Regions from separate parts of the Homo sapiens genome. Here region 2 is reported to be linked to region 1. The links are microRNA targets in miRTarBase. Many come from high-throughput screens and were not tested one by one. Region 1 holds a microRNA gene; the other region holds the end of a gene's coding sequence.

Evidence for each region. Region 1 holds the annotated microRNA hsa-miR-5681b (AGGUAUUGCCACCCUUUCUAGU, at 1,656-1,677, opposite strand). A microRNA usually pairs through its seed, bases 2 to 8, with sites in the 3' UTR of a target mRNA and lowers its output. Matches are read on the target gene's strand: a 7mer-m8 pairs with bases 2 to 8, a 7mer-A1 pairs with bases 2 to 7 and ends in A, and an 8mer does both.
Region 2: miRTarBase lists POU2F3 as a target of hsa-miR-5681b. Seed matches in the 3' UTR shown: 7mer-A1 at 1,446-1,452.

What each region holds. Positions count from the first base shown.
Region 1 is chr8:74,546,929-74,550,052 of GRCh38, forward strand. It overlaps MIR5681B (microRNA 5681b), which reads right to left and starts at 1,681; the gene lies at 1,622-1,681. It overlaps MIR5681A (microRNA 5681a), which reads left to right and starts at 1,615; the gene lies at 1,615-1,689.
Region 2 is chr11:120,317,929-120,321,052 of GRCh38, forward strand. It overlaps POU2F3 (POU class 2 homeobox 3), which reads left to right. Exons shown (of 13, transcript NM_014352.4): 13 at 425-2,017. The coding sequence ends at 464. Among named protein-coding and RNA genes, the nearest start is that of TLCD5, 5.8 kb to the right of the region's middle.

The DNA of each region.
Region 1 (3,124 bases):
TGCCTGAATCCAGCAGAACAAATGAGCCCAAATTTGCCGTGCTAATTAAATTATATGGGAGGCTTGGTGGTTACATCTTCCAGCTACCAAGTCCTGTCTGTTTGGACCAAGAATTCTCAAACCAGACTGAAAATCAGAATCACCTGTGTGCCTGGTCACACCCCAGAACAATTAAATGGAAGTTCCTGGGGTCTTGGGGATGAGATGAACATCAGTACTTTTTAAAGCTCCTAGGTGATTGCAGGGTGCAGCTGAAGCTATGAATCACTGACTTAGAGGGACCCAGCTGCCCTGGAAATATTGGCCTTTCAGCTGAAGAATAACTACAGATGTTTGTGGCAGACCATTTCCTCAAGGCAGTTTACTGAGCCCCATTGACTGTTCCCAGCAGTCACAATTGGGTTCTGTGGCTCATAGCCCATTGGTAGAATGTGTACAGCAGATGTTTGAATGACATTAACAAATGGAAGCCTCCAAATCTTTCCTTGTTTAACAAGTAACAGCAGGTCCTTGTTTAAATAGTGATCATTAGTGATCGACTTTAATCCTTCGATTATAAATCTCCCATTTCTTCTTCTCTTCTATAAACTAGCTGACCTTTGTGTGCACATTGTGGATGTGTGGATGGCAGCAAACTGGAATTTGGACTAATTGAGTTGTCAATCAGATTTCTGTGCACTCCATATCACGTAGTTAGTAAGACTGAAATTATGGAAGGTGGTTGATTATTCTAGACATCTGAAGGATTGTTCTGAGCTCAATCAATTTCTTCACCAGCTGTTCTCAGGGCCAAAATGCTGAAAACAGTGGATACCATTTGGGATATGGAAAGGCCAAAGTCAAATCCAACTTGGACTCGGCAAAATAGAAATAGTCCTTTTCCTCATGTACTTTTAAAGTTTAGTCACATTTTCACGATTATAAACTGTTACTTTGGGCAAAGGATTGTTTCCAAGAAGCCAATGAATTGCACATATACAAACAGGCTGTGTTTCGGATCCATTTGTAGGAAACATCTTCTCAGCCCTCTGCCTCTTATAACCCCTGTGGCTCCTTATTAATGCACCTGCAGGAGAGGCACACACTATGTCACTCAGCCCTGGCTGCACCCTCAGGCAGGTGGTGTGTGGGTGCTTTAGCAGCTCTTTGAAGAATGTGATGCAGAACCATGAGCTAATGAGGAGTGCTAGGCACTATCCACCTGCAACTGGAGCACAGTATACTGCTCAGCAAATGTCCACATCTAGCAAAGCGGCTGCCCTTTGTCCACACTCCAATTTAGACAGAAGGCAAATGAAAAAGGACACACACAAATTTTAGTTTTCATTCTCCTTGGAAACATTTCAAAAAACTAAATAAACAACTGCCTCCTCCTGTCCTCTACCTCCAGGCTCTTTGGGAGCAATCCCTTAAGCAATTGACGGTTCTTTGGGAGCAGAAATAAAGAGAAAGTGAAAATTCTGGCTTCCTTTTTGAACTACCTTAATCTGTGAGAGAAAAAAAAAAAACCCTAAGTGATATGATAGATGCAACAAGTCTATGTTTATCGTGATTTATTGTTCACAAAGGGCTTTATATAGATGATCTCATATATTCCTTACAACTTCCTTGTGAAGTTTTTGAAGAGTATTGCCACCCTTTCTAGTCCCTATTAGACTAGAAAGGGTGGCAATACCTCTTCCAAAAACTGAGACTTGTTGATATTAAGTGAGTTGCCTCAGCAGTCAATGGCACTTTAAAATGTGTTTTACCTATTTTGTAGGATTTTTCACATGTTGTTTTTAACAATGGGAAGGGGATAGCCACTAGAGATACCAATATACACTATTCTGAGCCAAAGAAGCCAAGTTAAAACATGCCTTCATGGCACTTGAATTCTTTATAAAGTAATTTTTGAAGTTGAATTGAGACTTCCTGTTTAGAAGCTTGATTATAAACTCTTGGCTAGTTCTCTGACTTGCACACTTGTGTTCTGCTATTCCCTGGTCCTGAGGCCAGCCTCAGTCCCCCAGGGTTTTCTATTTATAGACCTCTTTCCTCTTTACAATAAACCACTTATTACTTTGGGTCAACTTTCAACCAAACAAGTCTCATTCATATAGGGGTCCTAAGTGGCTTCATCCTCTTAAACAAAGGAAAACCAAGATGGAAACAAGACGGGGAGCATTACATTGACTTGTGAGCAGGTAGTGACCAATAACTAGTGGGTTTTCCCAAAAACACAAAACCAAGCAGATCAAGGTGAAAGGGGTGGGGAAGTGGTGCTGACAGTGGAGGAGAGGGTCTGAAATGATTTTCTTGCTTGTCTCCAAGCTCTCAAGATTTGCAGGTACAAGAGCTCATCCAGGGACCAAGTGCCATCTGTTCATTAGAGACCATGCACGCACCATGGGCCTTAGGAAGAAGAAAAGTCCACTGCAAAGGGATTCTAGAAAAACATAGGTATCGGGTCTTATATGCCATCTGGAAAATGCATAGTTTCCATGACTGTGGAAGTAAGAGGGTATCTCACAGGTCAAGACTGTCCAGGATGCTTCAGGGTTTGCTTGTAGTAAAAGTAATTTTTTTTTTTTTTGACGTGGACTCTTGCTCTGTCACCCAGGCTGGAGTGCAGTGGTGCAATCTTGGCTCACTGCAACCGCTGCCTCCCGGGTTTAAGCAATTCTCCTGCCTCAGACTCCCAAGTAGCTGGGACTACAGGTGTGCACCACCACGCCTGGCTAATATTTTGTATTTTTAATAGAGATGGGGTTCACCATGTTAGCCAGGATGGTCTCCATCTCCTGACCTCGTGATCTGCCCACCTTGGCCTCCCAAAGTGCTGGGATTACAGGCGTGAGCCATTGCACCTGGCCTAAAGTAATTTTTTTTAAAAGTTATTTGTTTTAAAACATTTTGTATTAATTACATTTATCGCCATGCTTCTGGAAAAAGGGTGAAAAAACACTTTGCACATTATCTGGGAAATTATATACAGTGTATTGCTGGAAGTAATGGGCTAAGGATCTATAATACAATATTTTTAGTAATTATGATAAAAGGAGAGAATATACACATTATAAGAAACAATACTTTTGGTATCATCTTTATGATAATGGTATTAGAATTTATTGTGAGTTCTGGG
Region 2 (3,124 bases), not on the chromosome of region 1:
ACACAGAGATGTGTAGGTTACAGACCTGAGTTCGTCAGAAAAGATGAACCCAGCTGTCCAAATCCAGGCGGTTCAGCAAGGCAGCCAGTTCTTATTGGCCAATTGTTGCATAGCCCGAAACGTTGGCGCTCCTCACCTACCCCTACTGAGAGAGAGAAAGAGGACCATATAATATACATTACCAGCTTTAAAAAATTGTTTCGAGGTATAATTCATATACCATAAAATTCACCGTTTTAAAGTGTGCAGTTCAGTGGTTTTTAGTATATTCACAAGGTTGTGCAACCATCAGCGTTATCTAATTCCAGGATGTTTTTATTACTCCTACCTGCAAAAGCCCCTGTACCTGCTAGCAGTCACTCCCCATTCCCATCTTACGCCATCACATTATTAGCTTTAGGATTGACTTCTTTCTTCCTTCCAGATCTTGGTACCGATGGAATCATTCCACCTACCTCCACTGAGACCAAAAAGTTTCTCCTACTCCAGCTGGCCCTGTATTCCCCCTGGAAGGAAGGGAATCATGCCTTCTATATACAGACAGATTGCCTTCAGAAGAGTGGAAGAAAATCTCCACTATCAATGAACCCAGACTCTTGTCTTCTTCAAGAGCAAGGGCCTCCGGAGATCCAAACTGTGATTGAACCAAGTGCAGACTCCTAATGCTCTTGAAATACACAGCCCCTCCTAGGAGCTTACCATTTTCACCTTCCTTGCCTATGCCCTTGCCTTCTAGTTCCAAATATTTTAGCCAGCTTCACTGTGGCAATAGTCTTTCAGAGAAAAGACTTCTTGCTGTTATTCTCCAACTCATCCGTGGGCTTCTGGGGACAGCCATTTGGCTGGGGTGCCAAACACCAGAAGGGGAGATAATAGTTTTGACTCTGAACTTGGCCACAACCCCTGAACTGATCCCAAAATCTGTGAAAAGATTTGAATCTGATATCTCCACCAAAGCCTTGATGTTTTCTCTGTACAGCTAAGTTTTCTGATGGAATCTTCATCTCACCCCATTTTCTTTTTAACCTCGCCCCCTTTTCTACAATCAAATCCATTCATTATTGCGCCCTCCAGGTCCCCTCCTTTTTGCAGAAGGTGTAAAAGAGCTGCCCTTGGTGGGTGCCCTGGGCATGTTGCAACGCCTGCTGGTGCCCTTCTGTCTGTCCACGTCTGCCTAGGGCTCAGGAGTGCTTGTTCTTTCCCTTCCTCCCTGTGTTTCTCTTTATCCTGTCCCCTCTCCTTTCTCCTGGCAGCAGAAAAGGAAGAACACAAGAGCAAACACACAACAATGATGGTGGCAAAGTACCTGTATATAGCCCTTTCCCATTTTTTGCATTATGTTCTTAACTCCTTAATGTGGAATTTTCCAGCAAAATGTTTAACTCAGGTGTGATTTTTGAAAATGTCTCTGTAATATTTTATCTTCTTTAAAAAAAAGGGGGGGAAATACCAAAGTGTGAAATACTGTGCTACCTTCCAGAGTTCCCACATGGGCTGGGATTTTTTTTTCTTTTTCTTTTTTTTTTTTTTTTTTGAGACAGTCTTGCTCCAGCCCAGGCTGGAGTGCAGTGGCATGATCTTGGCTCACTGCATGCTCTGCCACTTGGGTTCAAGCGATTCTCCTGCCTCAGCCTCTCAAGTAGCGGGATTACAGGCGCCCACCACCAAAAATTAGCCCAGCTAATTTTTGTATTTTTAGTAGAGATGGGGTTTCACCATGTTGGTCAGGCTGGTCTTGAACTCCTGACCTCCTGATCCACCCACCTCAGCGTCCCGAAGTGCTGGGATTACAGGTGTGAGCCACCGCGCCTGGCCTGGGCTGGGAATCTTTGTTGACTTCTTTGGGAACATTATCTCTAGAGTCTGCTTTTTTGTGGGCCAGTTTGTAGAGATGTAACATGAAGCCATTCCAGAAATGGTAACTTAAAAAAAAAAAGACTACATGTCTAGGAAACTGTTGAGATTCAAAGGAATCTCACTGTTCCTAAATAAATGTGTATAGTGATTATGAAAAGTATCCCACTGTTGATAAGAAGAGGTTTAGATTCTTGTTCTGTGCCTTTTTGTTGTTGTGGGGGGCATGTGAGTGCATATAATGAAATGGGATGACAGAAAATGTTTCAAATTGGGACATTAAGTGTATTACTCCCCAAACTGATGCTAAAGATGACATATGTTATTACAGGGCCCTGAAGAATTCAGAGTTGTTACTCTCTGTAACATAACTACCTTGAGGGCAGAGTAGGCCAGAGATATTGTAAGTGGGAGGATGGTGAATGTTTAAGGTGAAGTCATTTGAAACTTAAGAGGTGGGGACTGAGGCTAATGTCTCATGTCTCAGATACCCTGAACGGCAGTTGTTCATTACTCACAACATAAAGCAATAAATAGTTAAGGCAGAGGGTAATTTAATAATCACATATTAGCTGGGCTTGGTGGTGTATGCCTGTAGTCCCAGCTACTGAAGAGCCTGAGATGGGAGGATCTATTAAGCCCAGGAAGTCAAGGCTGCAGTGAGCAATGATCATGCCGCTGCACTCCAGCCTGAACAACAGAGTGAGACCCTGTCTCAAATATACATATTTGTCTCATGTATATATATATATATATATATATATATATATATATATATATGGCTTCAGAATGCATTGTGACTTTTGGTTAGGAGGTTGAAAGGCAGCAAACCTATTCTTGTGTTTTTTCTTAGATTAATACAAATTTAAATAGTTACCGTTGGAGCCTGCAGTGAGCCAAGATTGTGCCACTGCACTCCGGCCTGGGCGACAGAGCGAGACTCCGTCTCAAAAAATAAAATAAGTAATAAATAGTTACCATTACTGAGATAAACGCTGACCTGTGGGAAAGAGAGGCCCTTCAAAAATGTAATGGCTGATGGGGAAAAACTAAAATTAGGATTAAACACTTCTTGCAAATAATAATATCCACACAGGAAACCTAAATATTAATAATGAAGAGTTAACCGCTCCCTGATGTTTGAATGGGGCTTTAAAAATTCCTATTTCACGTCATGAAGTGGGAGAAGGCCTAATGGTAATGTTTACTTTCTCAAGAAAATATCTAGTTAAAAGGGGCCAGGTATGTAGCAAAGAGACAGCAAGAGGAG